Linked DNA regions of Homo sapiens: region 1 is linked to region 2. Evidence: fine-mapped QTL for protein levels in blood plasma. A gene starts in region 2. The other region holds a variant in brackets. All regions are shown on one strand. Distances are between the middles of the regions. Region 1 overlaps CAMTA1 (calmodulin binding transcription activator 1). Region 2 holds the start of PER3 (period circadian regulator 3).

Evidence for each region. PIP is the chance, under the fine-mapping model, that this variant and not a neighbour inherited with it causes the effect. The UK Biobank Pharma Proteomics Project read protein levels with antibody pairs (Olink). The fine-mapping took linkage between variants from a reference panel, not from the people measured, so its PIPs are less certain.
Region 1: its variant is fine-mapped to the plasma level of the PER3 protein (UK Biobank, PIP above 0.99).

Annotation. Positions count from the first base shown.
Region 1 is chr1:7,756,531-7,771,768 of GRCh38, reverse strand. It overlaps CAMTA1 (calmodulin binding transcription activator 1), which reads right to left. Exons shown (of 23, transcript NM_015215.4): 23 at 2,063-5,310. The coding sequence ends at 5,278. It overlaps VAMP3 (vesicle associated membrane protein 3), which reads right to left and starts at 473. Exons shown (of 5, transcript NM_004781.4): 1 at 384-473. The coding sequence starts at 385. RefSeq lists silencers at 110-339, 304-546 and enhancers at 780-829, 573-1,269. The variant T/AT (reference allele first, on the strand shown) is at 5,516.
Region 2 is chr1:7,780,826-7,795,378 of GRCh38, reverse strand. PER3 (period circadian regulator 3) reads right to left here and starts at 11,088. Exons shown (of 22, transcript NM_001377275.1): 1 at 11,003-11,088; 2 at 10,374-10,725; 3 at 9,793-9,938; 4 at 8,543-8,658; 5 at 7,133-7,334; 6 at 1,371-1,422. The coding sequence starts at 10,501. It overlaps VAMP3 (vesicle associated membrane protein 3), which reads right to left. Exons shown (of 5, transcript NM_004781.4): 5 at 13,947-14,553. RefSeq lists a silencer at 11,013-11,622.

The DNA.
Region 1 (15,238 bases), 24 kb after region 2:
AACTTCTGGGGCCCAGCGCAGCACCGGGCCGAGAGCGGGCGCTCCCGAACCAGGGCTGTCGTCCCCATTCCTCTCAGGGACGTCGGGGACTAGAAAGGGAAGGGGCGAGGAGCGGGCTGCGGGCGGGCAGCTCACTTCCTCCGGGAAGCGTCTCGCCGCCCCGCCCTTGCCCCTTCCGCGTCCGCCCGATGGCCGCGGGACCCGCCCGGCCCGTCTGCAGCCCGCGACCCAAGGGCCACCGCCCACCCCCAGGCCTCGGGATCCCCGCGCAGCCCCGGCCTGCGTCCGAGTGGCGGCCGGCGGCAACTGGGCAGTATGGCGGTCCCAGCGCGAGCTGCCGCCTGCGGGGCCCGAAGCCGCCCGCGTCGCGTAGCGTCACTCACATTTTGGCAGCTGCGGCGGCGGCAGCGGCGACGAGAGAGGGTCAGCAGAGAAGCGAAGTTGGGACCGGAGGCCAGGGAGATGGGTGGGACGGCGCGGCGCGGGGCAAAGACGTCACTAGGCGGAGCCGGGGGAGTGGGCGGGGCGAAGAGGGGGCGCGCCGGAAGTGGGCGGGGGCGTCGTGGGTGGGTGCGTCCAGGGCGGGGTCAGAGCGAGACGTCCCCTCCCCGGACGAGGTCACTTGGGAACTTGAGGGCCACAGGGGTCCCAGGGCGGTCCGGGCTCTGAAACGCAGAACGCAGGTCAATACAGCTCCCTGTCCGCACCGCCGTCCGCGCTGGCGCTTGGGGACGTGGTCTGTAAACGTGGTGCATTAGCCACTGGCGAGGGACTGCGTGGATAAGTGAGGGTGGGGGCAATTCATGTTATTCTGGGCTCGGGACCATTTCTAACAGTATTAGAGACAGATGACTGGCTTCTGCTGAGTGTTCCAGAGTAACCTAGTGATCCTGAGGGCACCATGTTTCTCTAAAGTAGTTGAAATAGGAAGTCCATTTCGGGTATTTGTCACATGGTGTTGGGTGAGGTTCCCGCTCATGTTTTCATCGGTGACACAAATATTTGTCACTGCAGATCATATTATAATCTGCTTACGAGAGCCTTGGCATCAAGGCTGTAGTTCCTTTATTTCTGTATTTTCAGGCCCTAGCACAGAATAGGTCCTCAGGTTTTGGTCGAAGGGAGGGAAGCACAAATCTGAACGCAGTGAGTTACCTTGTATATATTTGTTACTGAAATATTCCTACCAACATAGTTACCTACACCAAAAAATAAAACACTAATAGGTCATTGGTGGGTCTCTTAGATGAGAAGTGAAAAATACAGTACTTAAATACTATGCTGTTTTTTCCAACTCTAAATAGAATACTTTGAAAAGGGAAACGTTAGTATATATCGAATAAACGAGTGTCACAAAGGCGGTGGGATTTGAGCTGGGTACTAGTGGAAAAGAACTTTCCAAGTAAGGGTTGGGCAAACACCATGAACAAAGACAGCAGTGAAAATGGACGCAGTGTGCACAGACCACCTAGAGGGTGCAGGTTGGGTACAAGTGAAAAGAAGACTGAATAAAGAGGATAAACAAACAAGAAAAATGTCATTTAATTGTAGTGGGCCCTGGAAACCATTGACTTACGGACGTGGGAGATCCATGATGCAAAATTTCTCTGGCAGTAGTGGCCAGATGGATTAGATGGAAGAGGGAGCACTAGGGAGATAAGGAGAGGCTCTGCAGTGAACGGGAAGGGAGCGGCGATGACACAATACTCAGAAAGGACGACGTTCGTAATCTGCTGGAAAATGCCTTTTAGAAGACTTTAGAGGATTGTAACTGAAAAGGTGAATTAAATTAATGTCTTTATCTTTCAAATAATTGCACTGCCTTACACAAATGATTGACATGTTGAGAGGTGCCTGGAAAGATAGGGGAAAAGCTCTCTGAATGGTGGCTGGAAGACATTTTTTCTTTCATGGACCTAGCTGAAACAATGTAACATTCAATGTCAAAACATTACATCTGGATCAGAAGGAAATCCTTGACATTATTACATATGTTTTGAAACATGTGCCCATCACCTTAGATTTCACTACCCGGTCATATTAAAGCAAAACACACACGTAGTATGGGGAAATTTTCTTCATTTTTAATTTACAGCAGAAAGAATATAAAGCATTCAGAAAACATTTTCCATATTTTAAGGGCAATTCAAAACATTTTGCATGGTTTCCAGCAGCTGAGTTCTTCAACAGATCCATTGATTCAATGATGCTTTACATGCACAATTACAAAAATAAAACTTACAAAAAAAGAAGACATCTAGACTAGTTTTACATGCAAGTCTCAGGGACCCCCCATTGGGCGCCAACTACTGTGTGGAACTGCCATAAGCGACCGTGCAGCCAGAGAGGGGTTCGTATTATTGTCTTTATTTCGTTCACACAGTACAGCTGATTTCGAATGGGTAACAATAGCAATTAAATCTTCAGGAGATAGAATAAGATTAGCTATTAATTTTATAATGAAATCCTACTCCTGGCACTTGGGAATTCAGATTATCCAAGAAAGCTGCGCTTACCTATCATCTTATATTCGAAATTAAGATTCATAACCAAGAAAAAGCGGTCAGAAATGCTTCGTTTCAGTGGAAGTGCATTTTTGCCTCGCCTAGGATTCACAGTTGTACTGGTAGGTTACACTGGTAGGCTTTAAACCTACTTCCTATCCCCTCCATGAGAACCCTCTTAATTCTATGGAAGTCTCTACCATCTGTCATTTTCTAACGTATTCAGCTAATAATGTAACATGTGAAACATTAAAAAAAAAATGTGAGGGTTAAAGCAAATCCACTGAGGTCATTACTCTGGTTAAAACATCAGTTATTTGTACCATAATAAATGGAATAAAGATATCTAAATTCAGTATTAATAGAGGATATTCTGAAAGAGCTGGCTTTCACGTTCTATTCCCATTTATGAATGCAGTTGTGTTTGTAAATTACTCAGTGTCCTCCTATAGGTCAAATTGTGTAAAATAATAGGTATCTGGGGGACTGCAACAGCTGCAACATAACCCACACATTTAAAAACAAAATGGAGTCAGGTCAGTTTACAAATGTACAGGTGGCTACTAGTTGTGGGGCTGTCACTGTTGTCAAAGCTGATCACAAGCAGAAAGACATATACTGTACAGTAATTCGAGGTTGGCAGTGAAAGGAAGTAATTAAAAAACAAGTACAATTATAGAAAAGGCACCAAGAGCACTGACCCCAGTTTTTACCACAATCTTTTTGTATCTACCTTCCTTCCAAAGACACCAGTTTAAAAGCTTATTTGTGAATATTTTTAGGCTTCACAACAAGCCTTGAGTTTTAACTCACAGTTGGCAGCCAGAACCAAGAAAAAACATCTCAGCTTTACACCAACTGATCCTCAGACGTAACCTGGGAATTTTAAACTGGCATCAGCAAATACGAACTTTATTCTCTCAATTTAACATTAGCAGTTTAATTGTTAAAAACATCAGATTTCTTTGGCTCCTCATTATGTGGAAATAGTAATATACCATGCCGTCTCTAAAAGACCAGTCTGCATCTTTTTCATTTTTTTTTTTGTGCAATTTTATTATATTTTCTGATTTCCAGCAGGAGATATGGAAACGTGACATTTTTCTACTTTTCATACTATTTCTTTTGTCAGGTTTTTTTTTTTTTTTTTTATCATTCTAAGTGTTCTTTGTTGGAGTGAGTGGATGGTGTTAAGCTACATACTGATTCATCTTATGATTATCTGTTTTGCAAAAGTAACTTAATTTTCTTAAGCAGTATTAGCATTCACATTACTTGGCACCATTGGCAAAAAAATTTTAAATAAAATAAACTAAACTCCTGGTAGCCAAAATTAAATGTAAACATATCCTTTTTTTTTTAAGTAATGTTACTCTGCCTTTTTTCCTAAGTCTAAATACAGTAGCTCTTTTTTTTTTTTTGCAGTTTAGTCATGCTTTAGCAAAATGTTCTCCTAAAGAACATTTAAAATAAAGTACTCTTATAGTGAAATAAAGTTTTTTTGTTTCATTTTACAGACCATAGCCACTAATGCTTTGCTTTTGTTCATTTCTTTTTTCTTGATTTCATGCACATATCTCTGTTTTAATATATACAATATATACAAACAGTACATCCACATTTTTCTCGCTCATTCAGACAAAACTATACAAATAATTTTATCTTGCCATGTTATTGACCTTTGTGAATAAAATATTTAGCAATTAATATAATCCCTTTCAAATATTTTCTCACTTTTCATTTCTACCTTCTATATATACACAGAAACTGCTCAGTTTGGATGAGATATAGCCAAAAACATGGAATTTACTGGCCAGAACGCAGCACCACACTGATCGTTTAGGTGGCAAATGTCCAGGCAAGGTTCATGATTCCTTAGAATTACTACAGCTTCCAAGGTTACTAAAAAAGGCTACATGCGTTACCAATTCTTAAGTAATTCTCATTGCACATGAAAGTAAGGCAAAAAAATTAAAGTGCTGAACATGAAAAAGGGGACAAGATGATTACTACCCTCGCAGGTTCTTGGAAGGTGGTGGGGACAAGAAAATAGTTTAAACTCTGTGAGCTGCTTCTCATTATTTCCCATGCATTACCCGTTTACCACACACCTGCCCCTCTGCAAATTTCCACAAGACATTAAAAACCTGCAGATTTCAAAAGTTGCATTAAATGTGCTGTAGAGATTAAAACAAACAAACAAACAAACAAAAATAAACAGTGAAGGAAATGAGAACACACGGACCCAATAAAGATTTTTGTATGATCTAAGCCCTCCACTGAGAATCAGTCCCAAAGATTCAGCTTCTTGGAAATAACCGGCAGGTGCAGGAACAGCATTCTTTTTTTGTTGCTAGTATAGCCCCACCTTTTCTTATCTATATTTTTGGTATAAATATTTGTACAGTTCCACACGATGTTTGAATACAGCCCTATATGAGAAGGAAATGGCTTCTTCCTGAGAAGAGGAAGCCTCTTTCAATTCCTCCTGGGTGTCTTGATTTCCCGTGATCCAACAGAAGATTGAGTTCCAAGATGTCTTGCTGATCAAATTAAAAGTTGTCCATGAAAGTGCAAATGCAATGACCAAAACATTCCTGTTAAAATCCTGCAGCTGATCTCCCCAAAACTGCAGAGGGATTTTGTATGTGTGTGTACGTGTGTGTGTGTGCGTGTGTGCGTGTGTGTTGTTGTTGCATGTCTCTGCTAAAAACAGAAATGAAAACAGTCTGAAAAGCAATGTCACATTGCTAAGGGATGCTGCTGTATGTCTTCAAGTTCCTTGGCCTTTTTCAATTCTTTCACTCTGGAAGAGAAACAAAACAAAACAGCAGGCGATAACTCTATAGTGAATTGTGACCAAGTAAAGGAAAGGGGTATTACCACTCCCTCTGAACTGAAAAGCCAAGACTAAAACCGTTTTGAGGATTGACGGCAAAAGAAACTCCTGTGAAATTGTTGGGGAAAATATTCAAAGGAAAGACGTGACCCTACTTAAGGTGAAAAAAAAA[T/AT]CATTCTAAAGCTTTGCTCTACATCGAGCGCTCTAAGAATAGAGCAAAATCAAAGTCTAATGTATTAAATCAAGTGTGACAATCACATGTTTATCTTAATAAAAATTTAACTATTCAAATAACTTTCTTTTTAGTCTCGTGGACCACCATTAATGTCCTATCACTCTGTATGATGTAAATTAGGGAAACTGTACATGCATTTATTTAGTTTTTTTTTTTTTTTTTTTGAGACAGAATCTCGCTGTGTTACCCAGGCTGGAGTGCAGTGGCACCATCTCGGCTCACTGCAACCTCCGCCTCCCGGGTTCACGCAATTCTCCTGCCTTAGCCTCCCGAGTAGCTGGGACTACAGGCGCCCGCCACCACACCCGGCTAATTTTCTGTATTTTTTAGTAGAGACAGGGTTTCACCATGTTAGCCAGGATGGTTTCGATCTCCTGACCTCGTGATCCGCCCACCCAGCCTCCCAAAGTGCTGGGATTACAGGCGTGAGCCACCGCGCCCGGCCTATTTAGCTTTTAATATATCTAGGGATTAAGCTACTACTGCTTTGTTCATAGACTCAAGATTGTTAGCTTTCTTGAACCTAATCATACATCTGTACAACTCTACTCCTTCACACAGGTTTTGTGGAGACTTTGATTTTTATAATTCCTTACTTTCCTCCCATTCCACATTATAACTTAAAAAGACATTTAGGTTCCTCCTCCCAGTGATCCCAGATGGACAGCCATAGGGTGCGATACTGATAAGGTACTTCGTTCTATTCATCAAACATACTGTAGTAAACAAATTTAAATAACATTGTTATAGACTGAGTCATGGAAAGTTCACATCAGCAAATTACTTATTAATTATCACTGCCAATCTGTAATTTTTAATATAAAAATCAGTCTCAGTTTTTTTGGATATGGCCACCTGATGTAGATGGGGTGCTGGGGAAGCTGCTGTCTGCTGTAAGAGTATTTCTCTACACTGACAATTACGAACCTGCCTTAATAGCAGAATGATCAAATGTAAGGCAATGCATGTGGTGTAAGTCACAGTTTGTGGTACTGCATACCATATAATAACATTTGTTTCCCAAAAATGGATGTGAGAGGCTGATTTAGCCAAATAGGAGCAACAGTTTCTTAGGACACCATACTCTACTGCAACAGCATGATCAGGAAAAGGTGGATTTGTCGTGGTGCTATACAGAGGGCTATAATCTCAAATATATTTTTCTGATTCTCTAAGAGGCTCTCCTATTATCTTAAGTTATACCAGTAAAGTAAAACTTTTTTTTTTTTTTGAGACGGAGTCTAACTCTGTTGCCCAGGCTGGAGTGCAGTGGTGCGATCTCGGCTCACTGCAACTTCTGCCTCCTGGGTTCAAGTGATTCTCCTGCCTCAGCCTCCCGAGTAGCTGGGATTACAGGCACGCACCACCACGCCTAGCTAATTTTTGTATTTTTAGTAGAGATGATGTTTCGCCATGTTGGCCAGGCTGGTCTTGAACTCCTGAGCTCAAGTGATCTGCCCACCTCAGCCTCCCAAAGTGCTTGAATTACAGGCATGAGCCTACCAGGCCCAGCCTCAAGTAAAACCTGATAATACTCAGGCAGAAAGAAAATAGTGTGAAAAAACCAGTAATCAGTTATTGCTATATTGTATAGGTTGAGAGTCTGGAATGGCACATATGGTATAATAGCAATTTAAGAAAACATTTATATTTACCACTTCCAAGCAGAATCATTTCTGAGTATTCTGCAAAGTTGATACAATCTCTTCATAGAGAAGATGCTCTCTTTTAGAAGAAAAGCTTTATGATGTTATCAGTAATACTAAAAAGAATTATAATCTTTGAAAACTTGCTTACTTGTCTGATTTACTTACTACATATACCAAGCCCTAGCTTGGTCCTAGTGTGATTTTTATAAATGACAGTGACAAACAGTGTATCTCTAAAACTGTTGAATCTTTTTTTGTTAACAGGCACAGTTAGAATACATTGCTATGTTCATGAGTAGATCCAAATATCATTTAGTTTTAAATTTTATAATTAAATATACCATGGATTAATTTGGGTCATATTACAGTATAGAATTGTACATCACTATAGGTCCCTAATTTTGGACATGCATACTTGATAAATAAATGGCTTTTTAAAAATTGAAACATGCTATAGTCTGTTCAATTTTTAAACATGCAATATCTATACTAACATCCCTTTGGCTGGAAATGCAAGGCATGCACTGATGCCAACTTCGCTTCTGGACATGCAATATCTGTACTTGTGCAGACCTATCTGCTGAATTTCTGCAGCGTGTGCATGCCACTTCAAATGCTACATTTTCTTTCTGCACTAGCACAGACCTCATTCACAAATATGCGACAGTGACTCCATCACTGATGAGATGTCTATAATTTGAGGAATTCTGAACTCAAAATCTGATAGCATAAACACGACGATGTTATACATTCACAATTTTTCTCGAATGAACAGGAATGCTTTAGAAATATTAAGTTCATCATTGAGATGAAATAAAAAGGAGAGTGAATTATAAGCCAGAAATGTTTTATGTGGTTTCATACCAAAGAATCTATAATCAGCTGGTCAGGGGAGGTATACCCTAAACATTTTTCTTTTAGTTAAAATGGTCACATTTGTTTTTGCAGTTTTTTCAGTTTCTTTCAGAACTAATTAAAAAGTTAAGTTTTCATAAGGTTTTAAAGTTGTCAAGTAAATACTCTATGAAATTAGTGATGGCCTCACAGACCACGAGGTTAAGGAGAGGTGCATGTCCACGTACAATGTCTACGCAGGAAAAATGAGAACAATGCAATTTTCAGATATATTTTCCAGGCTTCCACAACTCCTGAGTTAAAGTGGAGAATTTAGTTCTTAGCTTCATGATAAAGTTATCATAGTATGCTAGCATTATACATGACATCAAAATGACTTAAATGGCACAAACATTTTTTACAGAAAGTCGTTCAAGGAGGAATTAGAAAAAAAAGGGGAAAATGAGAGAGAAAAAGTATTAAATTCCAATAGCTATACAGGTTACTTAATATCTGTTACTTTATGTAGTCCTCACAACACTGCCATTAGCTCCAATTTGTAAATGCAGAATCTGAGATTTATAGGAATTAAGCAATCTGCCCCAATTCACACAGTTAATAAATGGCAGAACAGGGAATTGAGTCCAGGTTTGTCTGACTTCCAAACCTATAGTTTCAACATTTCACTGTCTCTAAAAATATCTCCCAGGATAACACAGAAGTATTTTAAAAATCATATTTTATTGTTTTTTCTAAAAGACTTTATAAGAAACATGCATTTGGAAAATTTCCATGGTATGAGATGAAATTAACAACAATTACATTTTCTCAATTCTAAGGTGTCATCTTTTATAAGACACTATATTGATTTTATTAATAAAAAACATTCTTGGTGGGGGAAGACCCTCACATAAAATGTACTTATTGATTTTACAACACAATTATTTAGAATCCTAAAATGTGTGAAAAGAATGTGTGTAAGAATCAAGGGAGATTTTTAGCTTTATTCTCCAATTTGCAATTTATGGACCATATAGATGTTAACTTACCTCTGAAAGTTAACATGAAATTGAGAGGCTTACTATCTGCCCTAGTGAAATCATAAATGAAGTTTTATGTTACTTGAGAGTAGATTATTAGGATGAGACAGTGGGGCTTAATTTTTGTTTTGTTTTAAATCAAATGTCAACTGGATAAAATAATGTTTGAATGTTATATTGCCTCCAAAGAAACAGAAAACAATTATATCACCAAAGTGATTTAGAATAACATATACTAGAATTTTAAAACAAATTTTAAGAAATAGATGTTTCAAATCAGAGTGTTTCAAATGGCTAAATTTATGATCACCTTGTTATTAGTTAAGGACATGAATGATTATTCAGGCAGATGTTAAAAATAAATCTTTACCAATGAGAAGGATACAAAATAGAAGTTTAACCATTATTATCTCTGGGTGATTCTCCTTGGTTATTTGTATTTCCAGAATTCACTACAATTAGTATGTGCTGCTTTTGTAATAATAATTATTCCTGCTTGTTAGCTTTTATTTTCTCCACTTATTTAGAGAGAGGGTTGACCAGACTGGAGTGCAGTGGAACAGTCATAGCTCACTGTGGCCTGGAATTTCTGGGCTCAAGCAATCCTTAGCCTTAGCCTCCTGAGTAGCTAGACTACAGGTACACATCACCATACCTGGCTAATTTTAAAATTTTTTTGTCTAGACAGGGGATCTAAATATATTGCCCAAGCTGGTCTTGAACTCCTGGCCTCAAGCAATTCTCCTGCCTCAGCCCCCAAAAGTGCTGGGATTACAGGCATGAGCTGCTTGTTAGTCTTAAAAAAAAAAAGTGAATTAGATCGTTTTCTATCTGTCTGTTACTAATCTGTCTTACAAATGCTGTGTTCATATTATATAAAAACAACTGAAAAATTCATTGGAAGGAAAAAAATTCAATTTTGTAGACTGAAACCAAAATCAATGGACTGAACTGGTTTCATTAACATTACCTATGTTGTAAGCAAATTTTTCAGTATACAAACTTGGTAAATATAGACAAGAATTTTTGAAATTGGAATTAGACTTGAAAATCCAGGACCTGTGGTCACCATATCTATAGAACTTGGAACACAGGTGCATGATAAACTTTTGTTATGTTACACACACTTAGCTAAGGGTTACTGAGTGCTCAGTTCTCTTAAGGAATTACAACTGTTCGACTCATTCAGGGCTAAGAAAGAACTGAATCTAAAAATGTCCAGGCTATCTAAAAAAAAAAAATTATAACTGCACTTACTTCTAAATTCACTTACACAGAAGACAGGCAAAGCAGTCTTCCCTGAGCTCATAGAGGCAATGCAGGACAGAAGCTACAGTTCCCACAGCGCCAGTGCTGCCCTCAGGAGAGCTGTGCGGCCACATTTCTGACTCCTATCAGTAACTTGCAAAGTAGAACTCTTATTGGCTCAGACTCACAGTAATTAGAATAGCAAGACTGACCTGTTACCATTCAGCTATTAACATTAAAGACAATCCCAGTATTTCCCCAAGCATTCTAGGCTGAGAATAATCACCACTCTGGGATACCATTGTAGTCTCAATTCCCCCTTCCCAAAAAGTTGCATCGTAATGTACTGAAGTGATGTCGTAAGCAACAGCACTGAAAGCCAGCAAAAGCCCACAGGGTTTACTTCCATCAGACGTCCAATGATCATTTATGAATCAATGAAGTAGGCCTGCTTCAGAAACTTGTAGCAAACAATGGCTCCATGGGTAAAGCGTAAGGCAAAGCTGCTTCATTACATCTACTCAGTGATGCTCAGCCAGAGAAATGTCTCATGAGTCAGTGGAGTTCAGCGGGAATATTCTCGCAATGCTGGACGTCAAAAATAGACAGGGCAGCGGATGCGGCTTTCTGATTATTACCTGTTGCTTTGAGAGCTGCAATAGCTTGTGGGGAATTTAGGAAAAGAGAGATCTTGCCATTTTCCAGAAATCTCATTTGGATTGCAAAACAAAAAAGACAGAGAGGCCCAATAAGAATGACACAGAGCATGTTGTCTGCAATTTAACACACACCACTGTGTTCCAAAAATATTCATTTCCTAAAAGAGGCAAGTGAGACAAAATTACTTTGAAGATTTAAAATACATCCATGATGACACATCCCACATTCACGTCTTACTTCTCATGAACACATCGGGCCACTTAGAAACTATGCCTCATGCCAAATTGAGCTACGGAAGTGTGAGAACACATTTGTTGACCCTAGAGCACTGTTTACTTCTCAGTACACTTCCCCGCATTGTTAGAGAACTGTCCCTTGGATAAAAGTGTACATAAAACAGCCAAAAGTGTAAGCGTAATTTTCAGAACTTGGTAATGACCCAGTGCAGCTATGACCCGGGGCTGTTCTCAGAAGCACACAGCAGAGCTGCTCTGTTGAGACCCCTACTTACCAGCTTCTGGCAAAGTGTTTGGAAACCCGGTTCTCAAATAAAAAGAAAATATGTTGTTTGAAAATATGTGACTAAAAAGTGTTATTTCTTCTTCCTCCAATTAAGGTTTTGTTCCAGTAAAATAACTGCACCTGCCTTTACTGAACACAGGTGACTAGGCCAGCAGTTTATAAGAAATAGGTTAATTAAATACTAGCATTCCCACTGCTTTTAATAACACCCATAGTGATTGTTACAGTTTATAAAGCCTTCTCACAGAAATAGTGTCTCGTATCGGGAAAGGAGGAATTTGTCTAGAAATTGCTTTTCAAAGAGCGGTGTCACTCATCTATGAGAACACTTTCTACTATCCACGAAAAATAAATGTCTTAGAGAAGTGGAAAGACATTTTCTGTCTAGAAAAACAGGCATTTTAGTTTTTATTTTTTTAGGTCAAGCAAGTCTCAATACCTTGAGGATAAATCTGTTATGTAACTGAACTACCTGCTAACATATGAGGTATCTTGGTTTTTCTCTATGCAACTGAATAATATCCTGTTAGATATACTCAAAATCCAAATGAAAGTATCTTTTCAGCATATGTACTTTAAAAGTTTCTTAAACCTTAAAAATCCTTCAGTCATTTGCTGAGAAATCACTTTTGTTAATTTAAATAATCTCTTTGTGTAGAACAAAAGTTCTCTCCTAAACACAGCTATTGTGTCCAAGACAAAAAACAGAAAAACAAAAAACAAAACAACCAAAAACCCTGATGACAGTATCGAGAGTTTGTTAATTTCACTTTAAGTTACTGGATAAATTAAGAGGTAGGCCTGAAGGAAAGGGGGATAAAAGTGAGCTGTACTCAGTGAAAAATATTTGGTGCTTTTTCTTAGCCTTCCCCAAGCAAAGACTAAACATTTCAAGACACAAGTGGTATTTTCTGATTGCTCTGCTGCTGGAATTTGTCTGTCGTGTCTTAATTCTGCCTTTTTAGATCTCCCCCTGCTCCACTGACGTAGGAGTTTGGGTCAGTATTAGTGTTTAACAAATACTGTCCCATAAAATTTAATTCTGTAAGTTTCCAGATATTATTTTTCTTTTCTTTTCTTTTCTTTTCTGGGACAGGGTCTCACTCTGTTGTGCAGGCTGGAGTACAGTGGCACTATCATGACACACTGTAGCCTCGACCTTCTGGGCTCAAGCAATCCTCCCACCTCAGCCTCCAGTAGCTGGGAAAATATTATTTTTCAATGTATAAACCATGTTTTAAATATGGAATACTTTACAAATTAACAAAATAAGTATATTATCTTTTTTTTTTTTTTTTTTTTTGAGACAGAGTCTCGCTCTTTTGCCCAGGCCGGACTGCAGTGGCGCTATCTCGGCTCACTGCAAGCTCCGCCTCCCGGATTCACACCATTCTCCTGCCTCAGCCTCCCGAGTAGCTGGGACTACAGGCGCCCGCCACCGCAACCGGCTAATTTTTTGTATTTTCAGTAGAGACGGGGTTTCACCATGTTAGCCAGGATGGTCTCGATCTCCTGACCTCGTGATCCGCCCGCCTCGGCCTCCCAAAGTGCTGGGATTACAGGCGTAAGCCACCGCGCCCGGCCCAAAAATAAGTATTTTATCTTAACATAATTTCCACGACTATAAATCTTCCTCAGAGAATGCTCTGCCTCCCAAGACTAATTTCAACTTGGGGATTGTTAGAGGGAGTGCCACTGTGACTTCTCCGATGGAAGAACGAGGGAGAGAAGATCTTATTGGCAATCATACAAAGCCATATATACGCTATTCCTTGGTTCACAGAGTTAGCTAAATATCACCAGGATAGAAGGAACCTTCTCAGCCCCTATCTCTCAAACTTGCATAGATGTCGTGAGGCATAAGGGGTGTCATGAGATTCCAACTTTCCATGCATGAGTAGGAGTTTTAGGAGTTCACAATAGAATGCAGCAGGCATTAAAGAAATTGAGGTTGGGATTCTGGTTTGCATTGAAAAGCACCTTCTGAAAATGTGCTCTTAAAAACGGTCATTAACATACCAGAAACTAACAAGTTTCAAAAACGCATAAGCAACCACCTCCCGTAAAAATGTTGTCCTTGCAGCAGGTGATATTAATTGCATATAACATGCATGATACTACAAGTTGTAGTTGAACTGAACACTAGGGCATGCATCTATTCTCTTGGAGGTTTTTTAAAATGGAAAGAAAGATTATCTATATATATGCAGAGGGTGAGAGGGAATAGAGGGAGAAATGGAGATTTTTGTCCTCTTTTTTTCTTACATTTCAAAAAAAACGTCTCCGAGCCAGCTCTATCACAAGGGACCTGAAATATTTTAATTGAGAACAATTCCTTAAGTCTAGAGAGGATTAATTAGTTAAGTTTACGTAAGAGTATAGCTGCTTTTTTCCCCCAAAAAACAAATTTTTCCTTTAGCAATTATTTATAGTTTTAAATAAATGAGCCTTTAAATCTTTAAAATTTTAAGGCTTTTTAGGCTTTTCTCTTTTTTTTCTTTTGAGACAGAGTCTTGCTCTGTCGCCCAGGCTGGAGTGCAGTGGCACAATCTTGGCTCACTGCAACCTCTGCCTCCCGGGTTCAACAGATTCTCCTGCACACGCCACCATGGCCAGCTAATTTTTGTATTTTTAGTAGAGACACGGTTTGACCACGTTGGCCAGGCTGGTCTCGAACTCCTGACCTCAAGTGATCCGGCTGCCTCGGCCTCCCAAAGTGTTGGGATTACAGGCATGAGCCACCATGGCCGGCCCTTTTAAAGCTTTTAAATCTAGGGTTAAGGTCATTATTAAGAAGAACTTATAAAAACTAAATTCTTCTATCATCAAGTTGGCATACTACAACCTGTGGGCCAAAATCTAGTCCAGTATCTATTTGTATAAATAAAGTTGTATTAGAACACAGCCATAGCCATTCATTTATGTGTTGTCTGTGGCTGCTTTCCTGCTACATTAAAAGAACTGAGTAGTTGGGACAGACCATACAGCCCACAAAGCTTAAGGTATTTACTATCTGGCCTTTCAGAAAAACATTTGCCAACTTCTGGGTTAAAATATAATAAATAAAGATTAGCACCAACATAAGTCTAGTTAGATGGGAAATAATATCTCCAGAAACATTAGCAGTTTTAAGATTTTTTGAACTATGACCTTTTCTCAGAAATCTTAAAGATGACTAAATAAAGTATTAGTGTAAGGTTAAGAAGAGGGGGCATTGAATATAGTTGAGTTGATAGAGAAAATTCCCATGTTATAATTTCAACTCATTTTTTCTCTTAAGATTATATATAAGAAACAGGTTGTCAAATTAATCTAAATTCATTTAAATTAATTAAATTTTGATGAATTCTATTCCTGGCGTTTTTTGTTTTGTTTTGTTTTGTTTTGTTTGAGACAGGGTCTCGCTCTGTTGCTCAGGCTGGAGTGCAGTGGCATGTTCACAGCTCACTGCAGCCTCAACCTCCCAGGCTTACATGATCCTCCCACCTCAGTCTCCGGAGTAGCTGGGACCACAGGCATGCCCTACCACGCCTGGTTAATTTTTTATCTTTTGTAGAGATGGAGTCTCCCTATGTTGCCCAGGCTGGCACTGAACTCCTGGGCTCAAGCACTCCTCCCACCTCAGCCTCCCAAAGCACTGGGATTATAGGCATGAGCCATCGTACCTGGCCTATTCCTGGCTTTGAAAAAATGGTTTTCGGACACTA
Region 2 (14,553 bases):
TTATCACCAGCCAACACAGGCATTTGAATATGTGTTTATTATTGGTCTCCTCCTCACAGAATTTAAGGTACGTGAGGCAAGAACTGTTTGAATCCCAGCACTGACAAAGTGCCTGGCTCAGAGAAAGCACCCCAAAATATTAATTAACATCAGAAACACATACAGCACTTATTAGGAGGCAGGAACTGTTCTAAGATCTTCATACAACTCACTTGTGAATGACCCACTGGAACAAGACAGCCCCTCCCACCGCTGTGCCCTTTCTCAGGCCGTCCCCCCCAAGCATCCAGAGCCTATGAGCTCAAGTCCCCCAGTTCCATGGAGTACTGGAATATTAGACTATTTCATCATGAGGGTTTTTCTTCTCTCTAAACATCTTGAGCATTTAGTAACTTCAATACTAAAACTGGCAATCACAATGTCATTTCAAAATATTTGTTCTTATTACAAAAGAACATATTATTATATCATCTTATATACATAATATATAACATAACAGAATATATAATTATATATTATGTATATAACATAAAAGGAACACTAATAATATATTGCAGCAAATTTAGAAGATAAAAAATTCAGTAGTAATTCCTACCAGCAATCAACTACTGTTAAAATTTTCATCTGTTTTCTTCTGGTTCACTGTCTCTAGATCTTTTAAATCCTTCTCACAAATATAAATCTCTTGCTTTCTTTAAAGCTATTAAAAATTTCAAAAATTAATTTTAAATGTGACTGAAAAACAAAAAGCTAAACAAAAAAGAGCCCAAAACAATGGTCATTTTAAAGTGTACTTCACATCTAGTGATTCTTATACACTCCTAGAGTTAAGAATTATTTTTCTAGACTTTTTTCCTATCGCATTATTATTTATTTTTATTTTTTTTGAGACAGAGTCTCGCTCTGTTGCCAGGCTGGAGTGCAATGGCGCCATCTCAGCTCACTGCAACCTCCACCTCCCAGGTTCAAGCTATTCTCCTGCCTCAGCCTCCCGAGTAGCTGGGACTACAGGCGTGCACTACCACGTCTAATTAATTTTTGTATTTTTAGTAGAAACGCCGTTTCACCATGTTGGCCAGGATGTTCTCGACCCCTTGACCTTGTGATCCGCCCGCCTCCGCCTCTGCCTCTCAAAGTGCTAGGATTACAGGTGTGAGCCACTGTGCCCAGCCTCCTATTGCATTATTATCTAGTTTTCTCATGAGTATGTCTCTTCTCAATCAAAATACGAACTCCTTGTGGCAATAACCAAGTCTTATTTTTTGTATCTCGCAACAGAAGTGAGCTGAATACACAAGAATCAAACCAACTGCAAAATAAACTCAGAACATAATCCACTGTTGCTGGCTTCCACGAGCCACTATACTTACCGGATCCTGCAGAAAAAAGGTTTCACCGGAGCACATTCATACCGTGCAGCTGCTAGAAAGAAAGATGCCTGGTCAGTCACTCCCTCTTATCCAGGTCTTTCTCAGTGAAACAATGTTGCACCATTATCAAACAACAAACTATTTTTTAAAAGAGAGAGAGGTCTCCTTGATTAAAATAGAACCCCCTTCCTTCATTTTGAGATCCAGTCACAATACTAGAATTGGGAAATACTAGTATTGGTTTTGGTACTGGAACCGTGAACCTCAGGTATAACAGTGAGAATCGGCTTTATCTCTTCCCCTTACTACTTTTCATAGTTCCCAAACTGCCCATGTTCATCATCTCAAAGGTCAATGTAATGATCCTTGGACACAATTATTCTGGTGGTAATATTCCATCCCATTGTAATAGTCTGGACCTTTCTAAAAAGTTGGGAATTCAGACTATTTTCAGCTTCTTAGCTATACGATATATAATTTTCTTTTTTTCTTTAAGCTCTTTCTTTGGATAAATTTCAAAAAGTTGTGTTCCTAGGTTAAATGATAGAATCGTTTTATGACTTTATTGTGTATGGATAAACCTCCAGAAAACTGTACCAATCTTCAGAGTTTTATTAATGTTTTCTCACAACCCTCATGCCAATGATTTGCTAGCAATTCCATTGATTTCTGCACCCATTTTATTGATTTATGAGGTGATAATTCAGAAATGTCTAAATTTGCCTTAGGAGATGAGGGGACTGAAATTTCTGCCCAGTGTTTGTTGACTATATGTATTTCCTCTGATTAGAGCTTCCTGAATATCTTTTGGGCATTTGTTCACTGAAACAAGAAGTCTTCAGTTATAGGAACCATGGAAAACTGTGAGATGTTCAAAAAATATACACTGAAGGTAGCATAAACAGTGAAAATCCAAAACAACCAAAATATTGAATAAGCAGCCCAGGTCTTGATACTTCTAAGAGACGATCACAGAAGAGTCAGAAAGCATTAATAAAGCACTGAAGATTGGTATAATCTTCTACAGAAAACGGCCTCTACTGTGAGGTCAGTTTGCTTATACCATTTATTCATCACACCAGACACATGAACTCCAACTGCACTCACTAGAAGTCCTGGACCACTGAAAGCTAGACTACGTGATCTAAGACAGCAGACGTGCACCCACAATGCATTTCCATTCCTAGGCTGTAAATATGTGATGCTTGTTTCTAAAAGCGTACTCTGAAGAAGTAATGGTCAGATCCTTCTAAGAGGTTTGTACAAGACATGTTAAATAGAAACATATTCTAATACAGGACCAGAGGTTGACAACAGCTGAGTGGATTGCTTCCTAAGTCCTCTTGATGTTCTATGTGCTCAAAGTAAGGAATCGAAGGGGGTAACGCAGGCATAGCCTATAAAGGGGGTGGCATTAACCAACTGCTCTCAGTATCAATCCTTGAGATTCATAAGGCAAAAGTACAATATAAAGAGTAAACTAGAATTATATCGTGCCTTATGGCATAAGTGAATTTTGAGATCCAAAAGAATTATTTCAGGGCATATTAAGATTTTACATAAAAGGTGATATGGTTTGGCTGTGTCCCCACCCAAATCTCATCTTGAATTGTAGTTCCCATAATCCCCACATGTCAAGGGAGGGACCTGGTGGGAGGTAACTGAATCATGGGGGTGGTTGCCGTCATCCCGTTCTCGTGATAGTGAGTTCTCATGAGAGCTCATGGTTTTATAAGAGGCTTTTCCCCCTTTTGCTTGGCGCTTCTCCTTGCTGTTGCCACGTGAAGGACATGTCCCCGTCTGCCATGATTGTTAAGTTTCCTGAGGCCTCCCCAGCCATGCTGAACTGAGTCAATTAAAACTCTTTCCTTTAGAAATTACCCAGTCTTGGGTATGTCTTTATTAGCAGCATGAGAATGGACTAATACAGTAAACTTGTACTGCAAAGAGTGGGGTGCTGCCATAGATACCCAAAAATGTGGAAGTGACTTTGGAACTGGGTAACAGGCAGACACTGGAACAGTTTGGAGGGCTTAGAAGAAGACAAGAAAATGTGGGAAAGTCTGGAACTTCCTAGAGACTTGTTGAATGGCTTTGACCAAAATGCTGATAGTGATATGGACAATGAAGTGCAGGCTGAGGTGGTCTCAGAGAGAGATGAGGAACTTGTTGGGACTGGAGTAAAGGACACTTCTGCTATGCAAAGAGACTGGCAACTTTTGCTCCTGGCCTAGAGATCTGTGGAACTTTGAACTTGAGAGAGATGATTTAGGTATCTGACGGAAGAAATTTCTAAACAGCAAAGCATTAAAGAGGAAGCAGAGCATAACAACTTGGAAAATTTGTAGCCTGAAGATGCAATGGAAAAGAAAAACCCATTTTCTGGGGAGAAATTCAAGCCTGCTACAGAAATTTGCAGAAGTAACAAGAAGCCAAATGTTAATCACCAAGACAATGGGGAAAATGTCTTCAGGGCATGTCAGAGACTTCACAGCAACCCCTCCCATCACAGGCTGAGGCCTACGAGAGAAAAAATGGTTTTCTGGGCCTGTCCAGGCCCCCACTGCTCTGTGCAGCCTTGGGACATGATGCCCTCCATTCCAGCTGCTTCACCTCCAGCCATGGCTAAAAGGGACCAAGGTACAGCTCAGGCCATAGCTTCAGAGGGTGCAAGCCCTATTCCTTGGCAGCTTCCATATGGTGTTGGTCCTGCAGGTGTGCAGAAGACAAGAACTGAGGTTTGGAAACCTCTGCCTAGATTTCAGAGGATGTACGGAAATGCCTGGATGTCCAGGCAGAAGTTTGCTACAGGGGCGGAGCCCTCATAGAGAACCTCTGCTAAGAGAGATGTGTAAGGGAAATTTGGGTTCGGAGCCCACACAGTCTTCACTGGGGCACTGCCTAGTGGAGCTGTGAGAAGAGGGCCACCATCCTCCAGACCTAAGAATGGTAGATCCACCAAAAGCTTGCACTGTGAGCCCAGAAAAGCCACAGACACTCAATGCCAGCCCATGAAACCAGCCATAAGGGAGGCTGTACCCTGCAAAGCCACAAGGGCAGAGCTGCCCAAGGCTGTAGGAGCCCACCTCTTGCACCAGCATGACCTGGATGTGAGACATGGAGTCAAAGGAGATTATTTTGGAGCTTTAATATTTAATTATTGCTTCAGTGGATTTCAGACTTGCAAGGGGCCTGTAGCCCCTTTGTTTTGGCCAATTTCTCCCATTTGAAATGGGTGTATTTACCCAATGCTTGTACGTCTATTGTACCTAGGAGATAACTAACTTGCTTTGGATTTTACAGGCTCATAGGTGAAAGGGACTTGCTTTGTCACATATGAGACTTTGGACTTGGACTTTTGGTCTAATGCTGGAATGAGCTAAGACTTTGGGGGACTGTTGGAAAAGCATGATTGCATTTTGAAATGTGAGGACGTGAGATTTGGGAGGGCTTAAGAGCAGAATGATATGGTTTGGCTGTATCCCCACCCAAATCTCATCTTGAATTATAGTTCCCATAATCCCCATGTGTGGTGGGAGGAACCCGGAGGGAGGTAATTGAATCATGGGGGCAGTTTCCCCCATGCTGTTCTCATGATAGTAAGTTCTCAAGAGATCTGATGGCTTTATAAAGGGCTTCCTCCTTCACTCGGCTCCCATTCTTCTCCTTCCTGCCATCATGTGTAGAAAGACATGTTTGCTTCCCCTTCTGCCATGATTGTAAGTTTCCTGAGGCCTCCCCAGTCATGTGGAACTGTGAGTCAATTAAACTTCTTTCCTTTATTAATTACCCAGTCTCAGATAGTTCTTTATAGCAGCGTAAGAATGGACTAATACAGAAGGGAAATATCGCAGTAATCAGTAATCAGCAAAAATGAAAAGGCTGAAAAGCCACAGGCAGTGCTGAAGGAAAAATACCTGGGGAAAAAATGGGAAAGACCTGGCAGACAATATTGTGTATGTCCTGTTCACAGCTGTATCTGTATCCGGACTAGTTCTTGACCCACGTGATTATTAAATAAATGTTTACGGAATGAACAGCTAACAAAAGCAGAGAAACAAATACAGACAAAGGTTGAAAATGTGTATTTAGGAAAGGGGATGAGAAATAAAATCAGTATTTTTGAAAGATGGGAAAAGAGATGAGCTAGAAGCAAGCAGGGATGACATGCATGTTTTCTAGAGCTTATGTAAAAATATTTTTAAAAGATGGGGCAATCTATAATTGGAAGAAGAAACACGCAAAGCTACCCTTCATTAAATTAACTACTGGGTAAAAAATTAGAAATAGTAGATAGAATTTCAGATATAAAGATGAAAAAGTTATGGAGATCTGTTTCACAACAATGTAAACATCCTTCACAGCAATGGAGTGAATGCCTAAAAATGATTAAGATGGTGTATTAGGTCCGTTTGCATGCTGCTGATAAAGACAGACCCAAGATTGGGCAATTTACAAAAGAAAGAGGTTTAACGGACTTACAGTTCCACGTGGCTGAGGAAGCCTCACAATCACGGCAGAAGGCAAGGAGGGGCAAGTTACATCTTACATGGACGGCAGCAGGCAAAGAGAGAGAGCTTGTGCAGAGAAACTCCCATTTTTAAAGCAATCAGATCTCATGAGACTTATCCACTATCACGAGAACAGCATGGGAAAGACGCCCTCATGATGCAATTATCTCCCACTGGGTTCCTCCCACGACACATGGGAATTGTGGGAGTTACAATTCAACATGAGATTTGGGTGGGGACACAGCCAAACTATATCAGATAGTAAACTGTATGTGTTTTTTACTACAATGAATTTTTTTTTTAATTAGAGAGAAGGGCTTGGAATCAAAGAGAACGCTGATATATATATATATATATTTTAAAGCTCTTTAAGAGACACTTCACAAAGAATATAAAATAATGAAGGATGACTAAAAAGAAATAAATTAAGATCACACAGGACTGAATGTCACAAAGAAAACTGCAATAGGCATCTTTGAATTATGAAAGAAAAGCATTCCAGAAGGAAAACAAAGTAATAAGACTCATAAGTTTCAGGGGCAAGAAAAACTGTAAGAGAGCTAATGATCTGAATTTTTTTTTTTTTTTTTCCCCAGAAACAGTTTCACGCTTGTCGCCCAGGCTGGAGTGCAATGGTGTGATCTTGGCTCACTGCAACCTCTGTCTCCCGGGTTCAAGTGCTTCTCGTGCCTCAACCTCCTGAGTAGCTGGGATTACAGGCATGCACTACCATGCCTGACTAATTTTTGTACTTTTAGTACAGATGGGGTTTTACCATGTTGGCCAGGCTGGTCTGGAACTCCTGACCTCAGGTGATCCACCTGCCTCAACCTCCCAAAGTGCTGGGATTACAGGCGTGAGCCACCTTGCCCAGCCTAATGATCCAAATTTTATCTCCAAAGTAAAATTTCTCATACAAGGAAATCATGAAGGAGGAAAAACATTTAATTTTAACTTAAAGGAAACAGAGCCTTCATAGCAACTAAACCACTATACAATACGCTGGTAATGAAATAATATTTATGACATATCATCTGTGAAACAGATGTGACAAAATGGAAACAAACGTATTGAGTATGTTATCAGAAGCTTTTAAAATGCTGTTTTCATCACGTGACTTTCTATAACAGGAATAAGAAAAACCAGATAGTGTGCATGTTCTAAATAATATGTTAATTTCTGTACTATTCCTGTAAGAATGAAACTGATCTTGATGAGGAAAGATAGACATCTGAACATTGGTCCTGTTACCTCTTTGGGTCCAGTTGTTCCAGAAAGGAAGCTGAGCTCTGGCAGTGTGCGCGTAGAATACCCTCATGTCTTGAGGTGCAAGCAGGTCAACAAAGTGAGAAGACGCCAGGACATCTTTCTTACGATTCAGGATCAAAGCAGCCTGTTCAGAAATGTGCACTAACCTTCCAGACAGAAATGAAAATACTGCCACAAAGGTATCCTATGAAAAACATTTAAAATAAATGCAAATATTGAGATACTCACTAGCAATATTCCCTGAAAGGTAAATTTCTTCTGGATCTCTAACATGACCAGTATCTTAAAATACACAGGCACAACCTACAAATGCAACAAAACTCCTCAAATAATTTTCTCCAACATGCTTCTTAAATCTTCTCCTAAGACCTGCACTTCACCTACTGAAGGTTCAATTTCTATGCCAAAAAATATACTAGCTTATTCTATGCAGACTAAAATACGTATGGCACATAACTTCTCTGCAAACTGTGCCATACACCTGGGTGGACGGTGTTCTCGTCATCAACGCAGATTCTATGCTTTAAGACACACTGAAGATTCACCTTCTTCAAGAAGCTGTCCTTGACAAACCTCATTACATAAGCATCACTGCTCTAATTTTTTCCATTACACATAAATGAAACTTATTTATAATCAGCAGTTTGTGTTTGCTAGCATTGGCATACTTTCCTCTCTAGCTTTATTTTAAATATCTTAAAAGACAAATATTTTCTTAAGCTATTTTTAAAAATCTCCATAGCACCTCCTACAGTACTATGTACACACCAGTCCATAAAATAAGCACTGTTATAATACTAGGGATTGCGCACGTTCCACTATTACAAAATCTTTAAGTAACAATTATGTTACTTAAAATAAGTAATCTCCACCGTATCAACCAAACATGAAGATTACTCTGTCAAACAAGAAGAGAGATTAAAAAAGATATACTAAAGGTCTCTTCCAAAATTTTAGGAAAAATGACAGCATCTCAACTCACCTGTTCTATAACATCCAGTTGTTACAACTTGAAGTAGTAGGTATTGGAACTAAGAATGATATAAATAGAAATTAACAATTCGGAGATTAGAATAAGGTGCAGGAAATTACTCTGCAGTGTAATTTTTGTTTTCTCTTAATTCAAGAGAGCTTGGGAATGCTAAGGAGCTAGAAGCACCTCATAACCAAAGTCACTGAGCTGCACAGCACACAGAACGGGCTGCTTCTGCTTTTAGATGTTTTCTCTGGCAAGGGCGGAGAAGCTACACCATGCCTCTTTAGCAGTTCCTCCTTTGCTTCTCTCAAATTGTGGTTGCTGAAACGTTGTTATCCTTCTTAAAAGCCTACATCTAGAGCAGGCCCTTAGGAAAAGTCACCCAGGTTGATATGGCAAAATGCATGAATTCTTACTGTGTTTTTGGAAGTGTGTTCTGAAGCGATAGTGGCCAGCTCCTCAAGACTGTACATGCTCACATCTGCCTGAGGTGCTCCATTCTGACTGAGAATCTGGAAAAACTCACTGTTTGCTAAGAAACACAGGGAGATAAACAGGTAGTCCAGTGACAACAGTATCTTTAGGAAACCATTTCATCACTATCAAGCTGGATTATTTTTTTCGGATGAGAACACCTCAGTGCATTTTTCTCAAAAACAGATCATTTTCTGCTTTTACCTAAAATACTGATAGTTGTGCAAACTTAAGATTTGATTTTATGAATTCTGCATGTTCTGGATCACAGGAAGCAAGATACATTTAAGGTACTAACTAAAAATTTCAGATGCATACACAATTTTTTTGCGGGGGGAGCAGAAACAGTACTCTGTCATTCAGGAACATATCATATATGAAGCACTGAGGTTTGTGCTAAAGAGAATATGGCTTTAATGAAATCCCTGGAAATGTCAGAGAGAAAAAGTGTTTACAATGGTTCATTTTTAGTTTGGTAAATTCCTGATATATCATTACTGCATTTTTATCATTATTATTTTTTAGAGACAGAGTCTCGCTCTGTCACCCAGGCGGGAGTGCAGTGGCGTGATCTCGGCTCACTGCAAGCTCCGCCTCCCGGGTTCACGCCGTTCTCCTGTCTCAGCCTCCCGAATAGCTGGACTACAGGCGCCCGCCACCACACCCGGCTAATTTTTTGTATTTTTAGTAGAGACGGGGTTTCACCGTATTAGCCAGGATGGTCTCGATCTCCTGACCTCGTGATCTGCCCGCCTCGGCCTCCCAAAGTGCTGGGATTACAGGCGTGAGGCACCGCGCCCAGCCTCATTACTGCATTTTGAAAGTATGTGTACGGCATGTAAAGGTAACTATTTCGTGGAATGCATTTTTTTCCCATAACTTCCATAGAAGACAATATTTCTTTAAAAGGTCAGCCTTCAAAATGTGCTTATGCTAAACTCTACTCTCTTGCAACACATGAGCAAAACATTGCATAGGTATTATACACTATTATACAGATAAAGTTTTCCTGGTCTTTCACATGTGAACAATTAAGACACGAATGGAATCGGTGTAGATTTGCTCATCTTCCACAAAGCACCAGAAAAAGCTCAAATTATTTGTCTGACTGAGACCCCACTGACCACTCCTCTGGCTGCTTGTATGAGTCCTGGTGCATTCGTAGGATGAAATTTCTCTCCGGCTTGTTTACCTTGAACGCTGTGGACACAGCGGAGAGCATAGTTGAGGGCATCTAGAGTGCTTGGTTTATTGCGTCTCTCCGAGGGGAAGTATTTTTTCATTTCTTGGACAACCATGATAAGTTCTTCAGAAACTCTGTTTCGATCTTGCTGTTCACTGGAAGATAAAAAAAAATTACAACTTCATCCTCTGAAGACAACAGCATCTTGCGGCTTAGGGAACACAAACTGCAAGCCAGGTAAGTTTCTAAGTGCTCTACCGGCATCAGTCCACAGGGTGGTGACCCCTCTTCCTCTAGGTGGGGAACTCGAGGCAAAGCAACTGGTGAATGACAAACATTCTCCACTTACTTTCCCTTAATCCACTTGAGCCCCAACTCAGCTAACTTTTGTAACCACTTTTCCCTCCTGATACTCTTCGGTAATTTTCTTCAGTGTCACGGATCACTTCATCCTACATTGCCCGAGTCTCCCCTTTACACTTTCCCCTGGGCTTGAAAACAAAAGAATAAAAAGATTTAGGTCCCCCTTTCCCTGCTCCAGGGAAGGACAACGAACGCATGGGGCCCTCGGCCTGAAGCCAGCGCGTCACCTGTGGCTGCTGTCCGCCAATTTCCTCTGCAGATGGAACTCGGGGCTCCACCGCTCCCCCGATTCTTCGCCCAGGGCCTCGTCCTTAGCCCCCCGTCTCCCGGGGCCAGGAGCTTCCCCGCGGGGCATCTCGAGGTCTCCGCGGGGCTCCACGTCGTGCTGGGACGGCCCGCAGCCTGCTTCTCGCTCACTTTGCAGTCAGTGACAGACACCGGTTTCTCACTCCGGTCCCCGCCATGGCGTTAGTGAGAACAGGCGGCCACCACGAGCCAGGGGGTCACGCTCATCTCCGAGGAGCTTTTCCCTCCAACATTTTCAAAACCCGGAGCTCGCTCGACTTTCAGGACTCCGGCCTAGGGGGAGGAGACAAGGGTGACAAGGGACAAATGGAACAGACAGTCCGACGCCAGCGGCCCGGCTGGCTGGGGCGCCCCGACCGCGCGGTCCTCACCCCTGCCCCAACTTTCCCGCGCGCCGAGGGATGGGGCCCGGGGAGGCGGGTGGCTCGGAAGCGCCACGCTCCGGGGGCCCCCAGTACCGAGGGCAGGGCTCGCGGGGCTCCTCTGCCGCGCGCGAGTGCCCAGAACTCCCGCCCGGCCGCCCAGAACTCCCGCCCGGCCGCGCACTCACCTGCTGCCCCCGCCCTTGGCCCCGCGCACAGCCGCTCGCCCCCGGGGCCGCCCTCGCGCAGTCTCGAGGCTCGCCGCGTGCCGGTCAGCAGCCGGCGCCGCGCCCCCTGCCGCCGCGTGACCGGTCCCGCCCCCGGGCCGTGCGATTGGTCGTCGGGGCCGACTCCGCAGGCCTCCATTGGCCCTGGGGCGGGGCGCGAGCCGGTGCGCCCGGGTTATATAAGCCAGGGCGAGGGGGCGGGGCCCCCGGGGCGCGTTACATAACGCGCGGGCTCGGGCGGAGGCCGGCGCTCGGCCAATCCCAGCAGGCCGGCGGGCGGGCAGGGGACGGGGTGGCCCTCAGCGGCCTCAGGCCTGTGCCGCGCGACTGGAGTGTCCGGCCCCCTGGCACGGCGCCGGGGCGGAGCCGCTGAAGCCAGCGCAGAAATGATAGGGCCAGGAAGCTGCCAGCCACGTGGGGGCGGGACCCGGGCTCTGTGGGGCGGGGCGGGTCCGGCCCAACCTCCACGTGAGAGGCGGGCGGGGAAGGAGAGGGGAGTGAGAGGCGGGGGCAGAGAGGGGCGAGAGGCGGAGTCGGGGGGCTTGAGTCGGGGTCAGGGGGAGGCTGGAAATGGGGACGGATGGGGGCGAGAGGCGGGGACGGGGGGGCGGATGGGAGCGGGGGTGCCGAGAGACGTGGGGAGCGAGAGGCAGGGGCGGGGGGGCGACGGTGTCGAGGGCGGGGGCATTAGAGGGAGGGAGAGGCGGGGACTGGGGGCGAGCAGGGGCGGCTCAGGCCAGCGCTCTGGGGTCGAGTCCTGGAGTTTGTAGGTGGCTCCCGGCTGCCCGAGCGGGTGTGGGGAGGAGCCCAGGGTGGGGCGGGCTGCCGGCAGCGGTCCTCATCGTGCTTTGGCCGTCTTTCTGGGTTCCCACGGTTTTCACCGCCCGTGACCTACCGAGCCCACCCCAACCGCCCCCATCCTCCGCTAACTCTTTCGGTGAGTGGGGTGGACTTGGAGGAACCGGGCCATAAAGCAGCCCTGGTAAAAAGCCCACCCGATTTTTAGAAACAGATTTTTTATTTTTTGAGACAGGGTTTTGCTCTGTTGTCCAGGCTGGATGGAGTGCAGTGGCGCGATTTTGGCTCACTGCAACCTCCGTCTTCTGGGCTCAAGCCAGTTTCCTGCTTCAGCCTCCCGAGTAGCTGGAACTACAGGTGCAGCCACCACACCTGGCTAATTTTTGTGTTTTTGGTAAAGATGGTCTGTGTTAGCCAGGCTGTTCTCAAACTCCTAAGCCCCAGTGATCTGCTGGCCTCGGTCTCCCAAAATGTTGGGATTACTGGCGTGAGCCACTGCACCGGCCCAGAAACAGAATTTTGACGGTGGAACTTAAAACACTTCCCTGCACTTCCTAAAATTAGATTCATTTGGCAACTGGAGGAAGACAAACGTAAAAGACACTCTGTTTCAGAAAAGAAGTTGTAGAGCCCTTTAAAAAAAATGTCTGAAAGCTCAGTTTAGTATCTCAACATGTTAGAAATGAAAGGTACAGTGCAGAGTGCCGCCCCTCTTCGCTGCCTGGTACAGAAAAAATATTCAGTATTTGTTGGATGGATGAAATTGTATGTAAAGGAAGAGGGGAAAAGTGAGGTGAGTGTTCATGTTAGGTATTGAATAAACCACCTTATATCTTCCAAGCGATACTCTAGGTTGGCTTGCTCTCCTCCGAAGCTGGGTTTTGTCAAACTGCATTCGTTCAGCAAGCATTTATTGCGTGCAGATCTGGGTAGGGACGCTTGGAATCCCAGCGGATAGAACAGTGGCCCAAAGTCCCTGCCACCCAGGGAGTTGACGTTTTATTGAGAAAGCCATACAAACAACCCCATAAACAAGTTCATAAAGCCTAAAGCGATGTGTAGAAAACAAACTACTGGAAGGAAGAGTAACTGGGAGAAAGGTGGAGTGGGGAGGCCAGAGCCTGCTTAGTCAGATCAGCAGGGCAGGCCTCTGGGAAGGCGGATTTCAACCTGAGATGAGAGGCGCCTGCCGCGAGTGGGGAAGGCGGATTTCAACCTGAGATGAGAGGCGCCTGCCGCGGGTGAGGAAGTAGACCCGGCAGAGCTGAAAGTACCTGCAGAAGACCTTTGGAAAGAAGTCAGTTTGCTGATGAGAAACCGAAACAAACTTTATCAGGTCCATTTCTCCCTCAGGGCTTCCTTGCCTGTTTTCATTCATAGCTAACTCTGGCCTTCAAGCCACACCCTGATGTTGAAAGTCTCATGGGCACAAGTCTCTCCGATGTCAACAGCTATACTTTGGTGGAGTACCTTGCTTGGAGAAGAGAGAGCTGGAGAGTCGTGTGACATGAAGTCAGAAAACTAGAAAGGACCAGATCATCGTGGGACCTGTAATTCGGGAAAGGGACTTGGATTTTCCTATTGTAAACATAAGCAAAAGTCCTCTTCCACCCGTATTATATTGTTTCCTAGGGGTTCTACGATAAGAATGGAAATACATTCATGAGGAAAAAAGGATCTACAGGAACAGAGCCATGTGTCTGGGGATGTCCCTCACCTATCCACTCATCTATCCCAGGGTCCATGCCAGCAGCCATCTAGTCTACCACAGACGGGGTCGGCTCTGCACATCACTTTAGAAAGACCATCTATTTAGGGAACTCCAAAGCCACATCCTGAATTTTGGTAATTGTGTAAAAGCCAGTTTCCTCCTCATCGCCTATACTAAAAAGCACTTTTCACAAGGGGAGCGGTTTTCTTCTGTTCACTGGGGTATGCGGAAATGCTGGGTACCAAAAGGGTAGAGTACCTAGAGAGGGGCTGGTGAGAAAAGGGGGAGACAGTTTCGGGGCTTCTAAGGGACAGGTATGGGGAGCAGCAAGGAATGGCATTTTTAGGACTCGGACCAGGTGCAGCTATTCCTCTACAAGGAGCACAGGTGCCACAATCATGTTTATAAACACTTTATTTAGGTGATTACAGTGGGTAAGTTCCCAGCTAAGTGCACAGATAGAAGCGAGGTATTTCTGGGTTAATGCAGGAGCCAGTGGGTTACATGGGTCTGGGCACTGTGGCCAAGGGGCGAGTACCAAGGTTTCTGAGTCAGACCCGGCCAGAGACCCTGCGCTGAAGGTGGACTAATGTCCTAACACTGCCAGCTGCTTTCTCCTCACAGCTGGCCACACCGCAAGGCATCTCTTCAACAGTAAATCATTTCAGCGATGTTAAGGGAACAGACGTTAAAGAAATGGAAGCTGTGTCCTGGTGCGCCTCAGCTGTTGCTGCTTTATAAGTCATAATAGCATGTGAACAAGAGTTTTAGAATATTCCAGTAACAATGAGCCACAGAGCGATAAAGTCTGTGTCTTTCTCCCTCAGTGCCTCCTTGCCTGTTTTCTTTCATACCTGAATTCCCATCTTTAAGCTGTGGATCCTGATGTTGAGTCTCATGCATACAAGAAAAGTTTTTCCGATGACAAAGTTTCTGCTTCCAGCATTCCCATCAACAGCATTCTCTGCAGTTGATGATATCAAAGCAAAGGTCTCTGGTTGGC